Linked DNA regions of Homo sapiens: region 2 is linked to region 1. A link means that fine-mapping ties the variant in region 1 to the expression of a gene that starts in the linked region. Tissue or cell type: testis. Region 1 holds a variant in brackets; the other region holds the start of a gene. All regions are shown on one strand. Distances are from middle to middle.

What was found. PIP is the estimated chance that this variant, and not a neighbour inherited with it, causes the effect. A credible set is the group of variants that fine-mapping cannot tell apart.
Region 2: it holds the start of LINC01566, and the variant in region 1 is the best candidate, but not a certain one, in a credible set for the expression of LINC01566 in testis (GTEx, PIP 0.57).

The regions. Positions count from the first base shown.
Region 1 is chr16:34,895,030-34,903,373 of GRCh38, reverse strand. No RefSeq gene overlaps it. Among named protein-coding and RNA genes, the nearest start is that of LINC02184, 81 kb to the left of the region's middle. The variant C/T (reference allele first, on the strand shown) is at 3,103.
Region 2 is chr16:35,358,454-35,366,797 of GRCh38, reverse strand. LINC01566 (long intergenic non-protein coding RNA 1566) reads right to left here and starts at 3,382. Exons shown (of 7, transcript NR_027080.2): 1 at 3,270-3,382.

The DNA.
Region 1 (8,344 bases):
GAATTGAATGGAATCATCTATTGCACTGCAATAGAAACATCATTGAATGGAAACATCTAGTGGACCGGAATGGAATCATGATTGAATGGAATCAAATGGAAACAACGAATGGACACGAATGGAATCATCATCGAATATAATTAAAACAATTATCAAAAGGATTCAAATGGAAACATTGAATGGACTCAAATGGAATCATCATCGAATGAAATCAAATGGAAACATCATCGAATGGAATTGAATGGAATCATCATCAAATGGAATTGAACAGAATCATCATCAAATGGAATGGAATGGAATCATCGAATGGATTTGAATGGAATCATCATCGAATGGAATCGAATCTAATCTTTGATTGGACTTGAACGGAATCATCAACGAATGGAATCGAATCTAATCTTTGATTGGACTCGAATGGAATCATCATCAAATGGAATCGAATCTAATCTTTGATTGGACTCGAACGGAATCATGATCAAATGGAATCAAATGTAATCTTCGAACGCACTCAGATGGAGTAATCGTCAAATGCAATCAAAGGGAATCATCATAGAATTCAATTGAATGGAATCGTCATCCAATGGAATCGAATGGAAGCCTCGAATGGATTAGAATTGAATCAACATCGAATGGAATCGAATAGAATCATCAAATGAAATCGAATGGAATCATCATCGAATGGAATCGAATGGAATCATCATCAAATGGAATCAAATCGAATCATCATCGAATGGAATCATATTGAATCATCAAAGAATGGAATCAAATGGAATCATCATTGACAGGATTCGAATGGAATAATCAAGAAATGGAATCGAATGGAATCATTGAATGGAATCCAATGTAATCATCATCGAATGGAATCCAATGTAATCATCATCGAATTGAACCCAATAGAATCATTACATTGAGTCGAATGCAACCATCGAATGGACTCAAATGTAATCATCAATGAATGGAATAGAATGGAATCAACGAATGGAACTGAATGGAATCATCATAGAATGAAATCAAATGAAATCATCGAATGGTCTCAATTGGTATCATCATCAAATGGAATCAAAAGGAATCAACGAATGGACTTGAATGGAATCACTGAATGGACTCGAAAGGAATCATCATCGAATGGAATCAAATGGAATCACCACCGAATGGAATTGAATGGTATCATCGAATCGACTCTAATGGAATCATCATCAAATGGAATCGAATGGAATTATCGAATGGACTCGAAAGGAATCATCACCAAATGGAATCGAATGGAATCATCGAATAGAATCAAATGTAATAATCATCAAATGAAATTGCAATAAATCATGGAATGGACACGAATGGAGTCATCATTGAATGGAATCGAATGGAATCATGAAACAGACTCATATGGATTAATCATCTAATGGAATGGAAAGGAATAATCAAATGAAATCAATGGAATCTTCATCGATTGAGATCAAATGGAATAATTGAATGGCACTGAATGGAATCATCATCGAATGGAATCAAATGGAACCATCTAATGGACACAAAAGGAATAATCATTGAATGGAATCGAATGGAAACATCGAATGGACACAAATGAATTCATCACCGAATGGAATCGAATGGAATCACTAAGAAATCAAATCGAATAGAATCGTCATTGAATGGAATCGAATGGAATCATCGCACAGAAGATAATGGAATCATCATCGAATGGAATCAAATAAAATCATCGAATGAAATCAAATGGAATCATCATCGAATAGAATCAAATGGAATCATCATCAAAAGTAATTGAATGGAATCATCGTCGAATGTAATTGAATGGAATCACCATTTAAAGGAATCGAATGGATTCATCATCAAATGGAACCGAACAGAGTCATCATCAAACGGAATTGAATGGAATCGTAATCGAATGGAATCATCAAATGGACACGAATGCAATCATTGACTGTGCTTCAATGGAATCATCATGGAATGGAATCGAATGGAATCATCGAATGGGCTCGAATGGAATCATCATCGAATGGAAACAGATGGAATTATAGAATGGACTTGAATGGAATTATTGAATGGAATCGAATGGAATCATCATTGAATGGAATTGAATGGAATCATCGAAAGGACTCGAATGGAATAATCATCGAACGGAATTGAATGGAATCATCGAATGATCTCAAATGGAATCATCATCAAATGCAATCAAAAGGAAACATCAAATGGACTTGAGTGGAATCATTGAATGGACTCGAATGGAATCATCATTGAATGGAATCGAATGGAATCATGAAATGGAAACGAATGCAATCACCATCAGATGGAATTGAATAGAATCATCATTGAATAGAATGGAATGGAATCCTTATCGAATGGAATCTAATGAAGTCATCATCGAATGGAATCTAGTGGAGTCATCATCTAAAGGAATCGAATGGAATCAGCAAGGAATGGAATCGAATGGAGAAATCGAATGTAATCCGTTGGAATCATCATTGAATGAAACCGAATGCAGTCATCAGAGAATGGAAACGAATGGAGTCAATGAAGGGACTCGAATGGAATCATCATTGAATTGAATCGTATGGAATCATCGAATGGACTCGAATGGAATCATCGAATGTACTCAAATGGAAACAACATCGAATGGAATCGAATGGAATCATCGAATGGAAACGAATGCAATCATCATTGAATGGAATCAAATGGAATCGAACGGAATCATAGAATGGACTCTAATGGAATCATCATGGAATGGAATTGAACAGAATCATCAAATGGACTCGAATGGAATCATTGAATGGAATTGAACACAATCAACATAGAATGGAATTGAATGGAATCATCATCGAATAGAATCAAATTGAATCATCGAATAGAATTGAATAGAGTCATCGTCAGGTTTAATCGAGTGGAATGATCTAATGGAATCTAGTGGAATCATTGTCGATTGGAATGGAATGGAATCAATGAATGGAAATGAATGGAATCACCAATTAATGGAATTGAATGGAATCATCATCGAATGGAATTGAATGAAATCATTGAATGGACTAGAATGCAATCATCATTGAATGGAATCACATGGAATCATCATCGAATGGAATCATATGGAATCATCAT[C/T]AATTGGAATTGAATGGAATGAAAAATTGGACTTGAAAGGAATCACCAAATGTACTCGAATGGAAGCATCAAATGGACTCGAATGGAATCATCATTGAATTGAATCGTATGGAATCATCGAATGGACTCGAATGGAATCATCTAATGGACTAGAATGGAATAATCATCGAATAGAATTGAATGGAATCATGGAATGGACTCGAATGGAATCATCATCAGATGGAATCGAATGGAATCATTGAATAGTATCGAATGTAACCATCATAAAATAAAATTGCATTGAATCTTCGAATGGACACGAATGGAGTCACCATCGAATGGAATCGAATGGAATCATCGAATGGACTCGAATGGAATAATCATCAAATGGAATGGAAAGGAATAATCAAAAAGAAATCAATGGAATCATCATTGAATGAAATCAAATGGAATAATCGAATGGCACCGAATGGAATCATCATCGAATGGAATCAAATGGAATCATCTAACGGACTCGAATGGAATAATCATCAATTGGAATCGAATGGAAATATCGAATGGACACAAATGGAATCATCACTGAATGGAATAGAATGGAATCATCATCAAATGGCATCGAATAGAATCATCGTCGAATGGAATTGAATGGAATCATTGAAGGGAATAGAATGGAATCATCATCGAATGGACTCAAATGGAATCATCAAAAGAAATCAAATGGAATCATCATCGAATGGACTACAATGGAATCATCATCGAATGGAATCCAATGGAATCATCATCGAATGTAACTGAATGAAATCATCATTGAAAGGAATCGAATGGATTCATCATCAAATGGAACCGAACAGAGTCATCATTGAATGGAATTGAATGGAATCATAATCAAATGGAATCGAATGGAATCATCAAATGAACTCGAATGCAGTCATCGACTGGGCTTCAATGGAATCATCATGGAATGGAATCGAATGGAATCATCAAATTGACGCAAATGGAATCATAATCAAATAAAATCAAATGTAATTATCGAATTGACACCAATGGAATCATCATTGAATGGAATCGAATGAAATCATCATCGAATGGAATCCAATGGAATCATCAAATGGAATAAAATGGAGTCATCATCGAATGACATCGAATGGAAACATCGATTGGATTAGAATGGAGTCATCATCGAATGGAAACGAACAGAATCATCGAATGAAATCAAATGGAATCATCATCGAATGGAGTCGAATGAAATCATCATCGAAAGGAATCCAATGGAAACACGAATGAAGGGAATCAGATGGAATCATCATCGAATGGAATCAAATGGAATCATGAAGGAATGGAATAGAATGGAATCATCGAATGGACTCGAATGGAATCACTATCAAATGGAAACGAATGGAATCGAATGGAATCATTGAATGGACTCGAATGGAATCATCATCAAATGGAATAGGATGGTATCATCGAATGGACCCAAATGGAATCATCGAATGGACGCGGATGGAATCATCGAATGGAATCAAACAGAATCATCAACGAATGGAATCGAATGGAATCATAGAATGGAATCCAATGTAGTCATCTTTGAATTGAACCCAACAGAATCATGAAATGGACTCGAATGGAATCATCAAATGGGCTTAAATGGAGACATCATCGAATGGAATAGAATGGAATCATCAAATGCAATTGAATTGAATCATCGAATGTACTTGAATGGAATCATCATCAAATGGAATCAAATGGAATCATGGAATGGACTCGAATGGAATCATCATCGAATGGAATTGAAGGGAATCATCAAATGGACTTGAATGGAATCATTGAATGGAATCAAATGGAATCATCATTGAATGAAATTGAATGGAATCATTGAATTTACTCGAATGGAATAATCATCAATTGGAACCAAATGGAATCATCGAATGGAATCGAATGGAATCATCATTGAATGGAATCGCATGGATTCATCTTCGAATGGAATCAAATGAAATCATCATTGAATGGAACCTAATGGAATCATCATGTAATGGAACCGAATGGAATCATCAACGAATGGAATCAAATGGAGAAATCGAGTAGAATCCTTTGGAATCATCATCGAATGGAACCGAATGCAGTCGTCATCAAATGGAATCAAATGGAATCATCAGCGAATGGAATCGAAAGGAATCATCATGGAATAGAATCAAATGGAATCATCGAATGGAAGGGAATGGAATCATCATGGAAAGGAATCAAAGGGAATCATTGAATAGAATCGAACGGAAACATTGAATGGAATCAAAGGGAATGATCATCGAATGGACTCAAATGGAATTATCAAAAGGAATCGAATGGAATCATCGATTGGACTCTAATGGAATAATCGGATGGACTCCAATGTAATCATCAAATGTAATCGCATGGAATAATTGAATGGACTCTAATGGAATCATCATCAAATGAAATTGGATGGAATCAACAAAGGGACTCGAATGGAATGATCGAATGGACTCGAACGGAATCATCATTGAATGGAATTCAATGAAATCATCGAATGGACTCAAATGGAATCATCATCGAATGGAGTCGAATAGGATCATCATGAAATGGAATCGAATTGGTTCATCATCAAAAGAAATCCAATGGATTCACTGAATGGATTCGAATGTAATGATCAAATGGACTCGAATGGAATCATCAAATGGAATCGAATGGAATAATCGACTGGACTCGAATGGAATTATCGAATAGACTTGAATGGAGTCATCAAATGGATTTTAATGGATTCATAAAATGGAATCATATGGAATCATCAAATGGACTCGAATGTAATCATTGCATGGACTTGAATGAAGTCATCGAATGGATTCGAATGGAATTATCATCCAATGGAATTGATTGGAATCCTCGAATAGAATCAGATGGAATCATCAAATAGAATCAAAATGAATCATCATCGAATGGAAACGAATGGAATCATAGAATGGAATCGAAGGCAATCATGATAGAATGGAATCAAATGGAATCATAGAATGGAATCAAATGGAATCATCATCAAGTGGAATCGAGTGGAATCATCGAATGGAATCGAATGGAATCACTGTCAAATGGAATGGAATTGAATCAATGAATGGAAATGTATGGAATCACCAATGAATGGAATAGAATGGAATAATCATTGAATGGAATCGAAAGGAATCATCGAATGGACTCGAAGAGTATCATCATCAAATGGAATCGTGTGGAATCATCTAATGGGCACGAATAGAATCATCATTGAATGGAATCAAATGGAATCATCTAATGTACTCGAATGGAATCATCATTGAATGGAATAGAATGGAAACATCAAATGGAATCGAATGGAATCATCATCGTATGGAATCGAGTGGAATCAACAAATGGACTCGAATGTAATCATCGGAGAATGGAATCAAATAGAATCATCAAATGGACTCGAATGGAATCATCATCAAATGGACTCGAATGGAATCAAGGAATGGACTTGAATTGAATGACCATTGAATGGAATCGAATGGAATCATCATCGAATGAAATCGAATGGAATCATTGAATGGACTCGAATGCCATCATCATTGAATGGAATCGAATGTAATCGAATGTAAGCATTGAATGGACTCGAATGGAATCATCATTGAATGAAATTGAAAGGAATCATCTAACAGAATCGAATGGAACCATCAAACGGCATCGAATGGTATCATCATTGAATGGAATCATCGAATGGAATCGAATGGAATCATTATCAAATGAAATTGATGGGAATCATCAAATGGCATCAAAAGGAATCATCATCCAATGGAATCAAATGGATTCATCTAACGGACTCATTTGGAATCATCATTCAATAGAATTAAGTGGAATCATCGAATGGACATGAATGGAATCGTTATCAAATGGAATCAAATGGAATCATCATCAAATGGAGTCGAATAGAATCATCATAGAATGGAATGGAATGGAGTCATCTAATGGAATAGAATGGAATCATCATCGAATGGAATCAAATAGAATCATCTAACGAAATCAAATGGAAGCATCATCGAATGGAATCGAAAGGAATCATGATCGAATGGAATTGAACGGAATCATCATCAAATGGAATCGAATGGAATCATTCAATGGAATTGAATGGAATCATCATCGAATGAAATGAAATGGAATCATCGAATGGACTCGAATGGAATCATCATTGAATGGAATCGAATACAATCATCGAATGGACTTGAATGGAATCATCATCGAATGGACTCAAAAAGAATTATCAAATGGACTCGAATTGAATCATCATCGAATGAACTCAAATGGAATGATCGAATGGACTCGAATGGAATCATGGATTGGACTCAAATGGAATTATCAAATGTGCTCGAATGGAAACATTGAATGGACTCGAATGGAATCATTATCAAATGGAATCAAATGGAATAATCGAATGGATTCGAATGGAATCATCTAACGTAATCGATCACAATCATTATCGAATGGAATCAAATGTAATGATCAAATGGAATCGAATGAAGTCATCATCGAATGGAATCGAATGGAATCATCATCGAATAGAATTGAATGGAATCATCGAATGGAATCGAAAGGAATCATCCTCAAATGTAATCGAATGGAATCAGTGAATGGAATCAAATGGAATAATCGAATGGAATTGAATGGAATCAGCATCGAATGATATCGAATGGAATCATCATCGAATAGAATTGAATGGAATCATTGAATGGAATCATCATCAAATGGAGTCAAATGGAATCATCAAATGGACTCGAATGGAATCATCATAGAATGGAATTGAATGGAATCATCGAGTGAAATCAAATGGATTCATTACTGAATGGGATCGAATGGTATCATGGAATGCACTTAAATGGAATCAGCAACGAATGGTATCGAATGGTATCATTGAATGGAATTGAATGGAATCATCTTCAATAGGAATCAAAAGGAATCACCGAATGGACTCGAATGGAATAAACATCGAAAGGAATCAAAAGGAATCATTGAATGGAATCGAATGGAATCATCATCAAGTGGAATCGAATGGAATCATCGAATGGAATCAAATGGAATCATCATCGAATGGAATACAATGGAATCATCATGGAATGGAATCCAACGGAATCATCATCGAATGTAACTGAATGATAACATCATTGAAAGGAATCGAATGGATTCATCATCAAATGGAACCGAACGGAGTCATCATCGAATAGAATCGCATGGAATCATCATCGAATGGAATCGAATG
Region 2 (8,344 bases), 460 kb before region 1:
CTGGTCTTAGGACAGTGGGCATAATTATACATTTGAGGTTGTAACACATACCTAGGAAGGCACAAAAATCTCAAAGCAGATTGTGCACATATACCATGTAAAACCATCAGGTGGCACAGACTGTCATAACAGGAACCAGCAAACAGGTGAGATTGTGACTCTCATATGCACACCTGGCTGACATATGTGAATTCTCACCCTCCCACAAAAACCCAGCCTACTTACAACATTCTGAATCTCACATTCAGAGGCAGTCAAAAGTTAGAACTGTGACTCTCACACATGGATGCAGTCCACAGGTAGGATGGTGACTCTCACACCAAGATTCAGAACGCCTGTGAGGCTGTTACTCCCCTACTGGGACACTGTCTGCAAGAGGAGTTCAGATTCTCATGCACTGATCAAGTCCACTGTTGAGGTTGTGACTCGAGTACTTGAACACATCTCACAAGATATGTTGACTGTCATAAGTGAAGCTGGGACATTAGTGGGATTTTGAATCTTATCCTGAAAACTTTCTTCTGGTGTGATTGTGATATATACCCTTTCCCAGCACCTGGTTGATTTTACTTTCTTGCCTGGGCCCAGTGTACAGTTGAGATTGTCACATACACCTGGACCATGCACTTTATTTATATGACTCTTCAGCATGAGCCCTGCCCTCAGGGGAAATTATGGTATATCTCTGGGGCAATCCTCAAAGTGAAGTGACTCTTCTTTCCTGCCCAGGCCCTGCCTTTAGTTGAGATTGTGACAGGCATATCACTGGGCCCTTAATGCAAATGATGTAACTTCTCTGCCTGGGTTCTAATTAGAGAAGGTATTGTGAAATCTCTCTGGGCCTATCACCTAGGTGATGTAACTCTGCCTTCCTGCCTGAACCTGCCCCCAAGAGGCATTGCGACGTATCACCAGGCCCAGCTCCCAGGTTATGTAACTGTCCTGCCTTGGCCCTGCCCACAGAGGGCATTTTGACACATTGCTATTTCCAGTACCTAGGTCATATGACCCTCCTGAATTGCTCTTGCTCCAAGGGGGGATTTTGACCTCTCACTGGGCCAATCACCTAGGTGTTGGGGCTCCTCTGCTGCCTAGATCCTGGCTAAAGTGGGAATTGTGACATATCTGTGGCCAGCATCCAGGTGATGTGACTCTGGTGCCTTGTCTCTCTCCACAATTGGAATTGTGAAATATACATAGGCACAGCTTACAGGTGGGATGATGACTCATACCTGAAAACATTTTGACTCTTGTAGTTAGTCTTATGGCAAAAATGAAGGTCCTGGGTCTTCAACTTGTAGGGTGGTCATGGAGTGTTTTGACCTTCGTGCACATTGTATAAAGCCATCAAGTGCTACAAAAAATGCCATAATGTAGTTCATCACATAGGTGAAAATGTGGCAGTTGTATGCACACCCAGCCACAAGTAAGGATTGTCACCCTCCGACATGAACAAAGCCCACTGTTGAGGTTCTGAATCACATGTCAAGAGGCCATAAAGTTGGAAATGTGAACCTCATAAATCAATCCAATCCACAGATGGGATGATAACTCCAAGACCAGGATTTAGAACACCTGGGGACTGTAATTTCCCTATTAAAACATAGTCTTCAGGTGAGATTTGGGCTTTTGTGTACTGATTTACTCCACTGTTGTGATTAACTTGCATACTTGGACTCAACCCACAAGACGGGTTGACTCTAATACCTTTAGCTGGAAAATGTCCAGGATTGTGAATTTCTCTTGTTGACTGGGCCCAGGTATAAGCTTTATTGCTGTGCCTGTGAGATGGGTTCAAAAATGAGTCACTATCTCACCTGTGGCTGCATCTATGTATGACAGTCACAATTCCAAATCTGTATTGCGTTTGCACATGAGATTTAGGACCTCACCACTGAGTACTGGCCATGTGTGAGGATGACAATTCTGTCAGCTGGATGTACATATGAGAGTCACAGCCTCACCTTTGTGTGGGTCCTGTTATGACACACTCTGTACCACCTGAGGGCTTTATACAATGTGCTTTGGTGTCATAATACACTATGACCTTTGTTAAAGTAAGAGACCAAGGACCATGACTGTTGCCCTAACCCTAGCTATGAGGGTCAAAATCTCTTCTCTTAGCTGGATCCCACGTATGACAGTCATCATTTCACTTTTAACCTGTGACTATATATATGTCACAATTTTACCTGTGAGCAGGGACCAGTCACAAAAGTTTAATCACCTGGGTGCTGGGTCAGCTATATGTCACAATTCTTACTTTGGCCAGAGCCCAGGCAACAGAGCAGAAACACATCACCCACATGATTGGCCCAGTGATGGGTCACAATCCTCTCTGGGAGCAGGGCCCATTCAGGAGAGTCATATCACCCAGCTGCTTGGCCAAGAAATATGTCACAATCCCCCCTGTGCACAGAGCCAAGGCAGGATAGTTACATCACCTGGGAGCTGGGCCCAACAATATGTCCCAATTACTCTTGGGGAAAGTGTCCAGGCAGAAGAGCAGAACCACATCACCTAGGTGATGGGCCCAGAGATATGCCACAATTTCTTCTGTGGGCTGGGCCCTGGGATAAGAATAACATCACCTGGTGCTGGACCCAGCAATATGTTACAATCCCAACTGTAAAAAGTTTCCAGGCAATAGAGGAGAGTCACATCACCTATGTGACTGGCCCAAAGATATGTAATAATATTCCCTTTGGGGAGTGCCAAGGAAGGAGTGTCTCAACTCCTCCGTGCTCAGCCCAAAGATATGACACAAAACACACTGCAGGGAGGGCCCAAGTAGGAGATAAGAGTCCTATTAACTAGGGGTTTAGCCAAGCAATATGTAAAAATTATTCCTGTTGGCAGATCCCAGCCCCCCATCCAAAAGAATCAAATCACTTGGGTGGTGCTTCCCATGAAAATCACAAGCCCTTTTGAGTGCAAAGCCCATGAAGCAGAGGCGATTCACATTACCTAGGTGATGATCCCAAAGATATTTCACAATGCTGTCTGTGGGGAGAGTCCAGGGAGACAAGTCACCTCACTTGAGTGCTGGGCTCAGAAAATGTCACAATCTTCTCTGATGGAAGAGCCCAGAAAAGAAGGAAGAGCCGCATCACCTAGGTGTTGAACCCACTGATGTGTCGAAATCTCTATTCTGAGCAGAGTCCAGGCAAGTGAGGAGAGTCACATCTTTTAGGTGATTGGTCCAGAGATATTTCTCAATGCCCCCTGTGCACATGGCCTAGACAGAAGACACACATAAGCAAGATTACCTTGTTGCTTAGCCCAGTGATGTCACAATGCTTCTTGAGGGCAGGGCACAAACAGGATCAGAGAGTCACATCATTAAGTACCAGGCTTAGTGATATGTTATAACCTTACCTGTGAGCAGGGTCTAAGTAGGGGAAAAGATTTATATCACCTAGGTGCAAAGTAGAGAGATACATCACAATTCCTTTGAAGGAAGTGTCTAGGCAAAATAGTCACATCACCTAGGTGTTTATTCCAGGTATAAGTCACAAGATATATCTGTGCTGAGCCCAGAAGCACTGTGAAATCACTAAGGTTCTAGTTGTATGTCACAATTATACCTGTGGGAAGGCCCAGTAATGAGACCTCCAAATCCAAACATTTCTCCACTCCAGGTAGAACTCCTGTTGCGTTGGGTCCAAGTACTTGAGTCACAATCTCAACAGTGGACTGCATCCTCACATGAGAGCCCCAATCCCTTCTCCAAGCTATGTCCTGGTAAGGGAGTCACAGCCTCAATGCTGTGCTGAATCTTGGTGAGAGAGTCACCATTTCGCCTGTGGACTGGATCCACCTGTGAGAGTCACAACTCCAACTTCCCCCTGCCCATGGGTGTGAGCTTAGAACCTCAGTTGTGGGTTATGTACATGTGGGCATGTGACAATTTCTACTTTTGGTTCTGTGGCCATACAGATCTCTATATCTCACCTGTGAACTGGGTCCTGTTATGACACTCTCTGTACCACTCAAGGGGTATATTCAACACACATGGGTTTTATAATCCTTTGACCTTCATAAAAGTAGAAGATCCAGGACTTTACCCATTGCTTGAAGCCTAGCTATGAGAGTCAAAATCTCTCCTTTTGGCTTGGCTCATGTATAAGATTTATCATAGTGCCTGTGAGCTGGGCCAAAATGTATATCACCTTCTCAACTGTGGAGATCCACAGGCAGATACAGTGTCATGTGAGATAGGAGGACGACTGAGATGTTCTCTGTGAGGGTGTAATTGTTATTGTCCTGGGGCTGTTTCTAGATATTTTCAAATAAAATAAATTCAGAGACTTTAACCTAAAGAAGTATTGCAATGGTGGAAGCATCAAGCATAATATCTGCAAACATCTAAAATACTAGGCAGAAAAGAGCTGTCTTTGAAATGGAGGAGCAAGGTATATTAGAAAGAAGGGTGGGAGAGGAAGGGCCCCATGGAGAGTGACAAAATCCTTCAAGATTAGAGATGGTTTCACCCTGAAATCAGCCTGTTCTTGGGAGGGGCATAAAAGGGGTTGTATGGTTATATGTTTACTCAGACTGAAGACGGAGCAGAGGCCAGGGTCCCGGGGGAAAAAAGAAACAAGCAACCTGTGCCTAACAAGTATTTTCTTCTGAACTCTGAAGACAAAAGTATTTAATTGTTTATGAGGAGCAAATGGGAATGTGGAGAATCTATGAATCTGTGATATCTAAAACAGGATGTACCATCTAGGTAACAATGGTAAAGGTGTTTCTCTGCAGTAAGTTTTCTCACAGAACACAAAGAATTAGAGAGTTTTCTTAAATGTCACTATTTACCAGGACTCACTACCCACCCTGTCTTTCTTTTATGCTTTTCTTTGCTGTATCCATTTTTTGCATTTGGCTTTTTCTGAACTGTATTTATTATAATAACCTGGCAAGCATAGGTGAAATGTTTTGCCAAGTTCTGTGAGTAGTTTTATTAATTATTAAACTTCATGAAAAGGGTTATGGGAGCTTATGATTTATAGATAGATGCTCAGAAGCATAGACGTGCCCATGTTCGTTGTGACAGGCATGTGCAGTGGGGATGGTGCTGTGGGACTGAGTCCTGAACTTGTGGAGTCTATGCCAACTCTGGGTGGTGTCAGAATTAAGATGTTAAACTCCCAGTTGGTGTTGATGAATTGGTTGGTGTTCAACAAACTCCATGTATTTGGTGTTAGAACAAAGACATCACAGCAGCCTCGGCTGGAGGTATACTGTGGGTCTTTTGGGGAATAAAGACTCTATTCTTTTACACACATGCTGTCACAGTGTGAATTGTCTTGTGACAATAGGTCCCATCTAGGGGTCAGAGGGAACTGAGGATTAAAAGGGATGGAGTTCTGAAGGAAGACTCCTCTCCTCACCCTGCTGCTATAAAGTGATTCCTGCACACTCACACACATACACACTAGGCAATGATGTAGATACACCCCTCCCATGACAAGGCATCACCCTGAGAAACTGTGCTGACAGAACCTCTCCTTCTAGAGTTTTCCACTAATATGCTACATAAGTGCCCAGTGGACTCATGGCTTACTTCTATGCCCAGATCTTGCATCTGCACCGTGACCTATTTTCTCCAGTAGCCTAGGCTTCTCGACCCTCTGTCCATCTCATCTGCCTGCATACACACATTTAGAAATCAGAGTTACCCTGTGTGTGCCAGTGTCTATAGCACTAACCAGTCCTTTCACCAACTATGCACTGTTCCCTACTCATGGGTTTTTTTGTATCACTTTCTCTTAGTCTGCTTTTTTCTTCTCCACAAACCCTCTTTCACAAACCCATGTGCCTAAATACAAACCCTACTGGAAATAGAATGTCTAAGAGTTCAGGATAAAATTTTGCAACCAGTTTATTGTAAGCATAAACACAAAATAAAAATAAGAGATTTAATCTTTCAATTTGAAAATAAAAAAGAAAATTTTCTCATTTTTTAAATTATTTAATTTAGATAACTTTCATATGTAAATTATTATCTGCTTTTATGTTTTTTGTTGTCTTTCAAGTTTTTATTGAATCTCTGTTCTTTTTTTATTATTTTGTGTATTGTGTTAACATTGAGAGTAATTAGTTTTTTTCAAGGTTTTTGCAAATCAAAGTCATGCTGCTTATTTGAGATCTTTCTTTCTTCTTATTATAGAAATATATCAGTGTTACCTTTTGTCTTAGAACTGCTTTTTTGCATCCCAGAAGTTGTTGTATGTTGTGTTTTTATTTCTACTTTTCTCAAGATACTTTGTGATTTCTTTTTTCTTTTCCCCTTTGACCATGTGTTTTTCAGAAATATGTTGTTTAATATCCACATATTTGTGAGTTTTTAAATTTTTTTCTCTTATTGATCTCTAGTTTTAAAAAACTGTAATTTAAAAAGTTCATTAATTTTAATCTTTTTAAATTTTTAGAGATTTTCTTGTTGTTGTTGGCCCAACATACGATATATCCTGGATAATATTCCATGTGTGCTCAAGAAGAATGTGTATTCAAATACTGTTGAATGAAATATTCTGTTTATCACTGTTAGGTGCACTTGTTCTATAGTGCTTTGCAAGTACATTGTTTTCTTACTACTTAAAACGTTTTAAGTAGAGTAATAGCATCTTCTATTACGATAATAATTATGTTTTTTTCTACAGTCATATATAAAATACATTCTTATATAAATATTATATAGACATACTATTATTATATTATATACATATATACATATGTTTATATATTTATGTGCTCCAATGTTGGGTTCATATATAGTTATAGCCTTTTGACAGATCAGCTTGTTATCATTATATAGTCAACTTCTCTATATCTCCTGACAGATTTTTTTCTAGAAGTCTATTTTGTCTTATATAAATATAGCCACTAATATACTCTTTTAGTTATTATTGGCATAGTATTTTTTTATTATTTAACCAGCAACTTATGCATGCCCTTAAATCTAAAAAATTTCTTATGTAAAATATACTGGTAAATTTGTTAATCTCTTTAGACATTTGTGAATGTTTCAGTTCATTTTCTGCTTCAAAAACAGAATATCCTAGAGTGGGTAAACTATAAAGAATAGAAGTTTACTTAGCTCATTTCTTTAGAGGCTGAAAGTCCAAGAACATGCCATTGCCATCTGATGAGAATCATATTTCCACGTCACAAAATGGTCAAAGGCATAACGAGGACAGAAGGTGTACACCAGAGAGCTTACTTTTATAATGGAACCACTCTCACGACAACTAATTCATTCTGGAAATAACGACATTAATTCATTCATGAGAGTAGAGCCCTCATGGCCTAGCAAATTCTTTCTGTCGCCCAGGCTGGAGTGGAGTGGTGCAATCTTGGCTCACTGCAACCTCCGCCTGCCAGGATCAAGCGATTCTCCTGCCTCAGCCTCCCTAGTACCTGGGATTACAGGCGCTTACCGCCACGCCAGCTAACTTTTCTATTTTTAGTAGAGACAGAGTTTCACCATGTTGGTCAAGCTAGCCTCGATCTCCTGACCTCGTGATCCACTCGCCTCGACTTCCCAAAGTGCTGGGATTACAGGCGTGAGCCATCGCGCCCGGCTTTTGTTTTTTTGTTTTAGTTTTTTTTTTTTTTTTTTTATTATACTTTAAGTTTTAGGGTACATGTGCACATTGTGCAGGTTAGTTACATATGTATACATGTGCCATGCTGGTGCGCTGCACCCACTAACTCGTCATCTAGCATTAGGTATATCTCCCAATGCTATCCCTCCCCCCTCCCCCCACCCCACCACAGTCCCCAGAGTGTGATATTCCCCTTCCTGTGTCCATGTGATCTCATTGTTCAATTCCCACCTATGAGTGAGAATATGCGGTGTTTGGTTTTTTGTTCTTGCGATAGTTTACTGAGAATAATGGTTTCCAATTTCATCCATGTCCCTACAAACTTTTGTTTTTGTTTTGGTTTTGTTTTTTGAGACGGAGTCTCACACTGTCGCCTACGCTGGAGTGCAGTGGCGACATCTCGGCTCACTGCAAGCTCCGCCTCCCGGGTTCATGCCATTCTCCTGCCTCAGCCTCCTGAGTAGCTGGGACTACAGGCACCCAACACCACGCCCGCTAATTTTTTATATTTTTAGTAGAGACAGGGTTTCACTGTGTTAGCCAGGATGGTCTCGATCTCCTGACCTCCTGATCCAACTGCCTCAGCCTCCCAAAGTGCTGGGATTACAGGCGTGAGCCACTGCACCCAGCCAGTAAATTCTTAAATGTCTATCTTCCTAATTTTGTAACAAAGGGAGTTAAATTTTAACATAAATTTTGGAGGGGACATTTATACCATAACAGCGTGTTTTTAT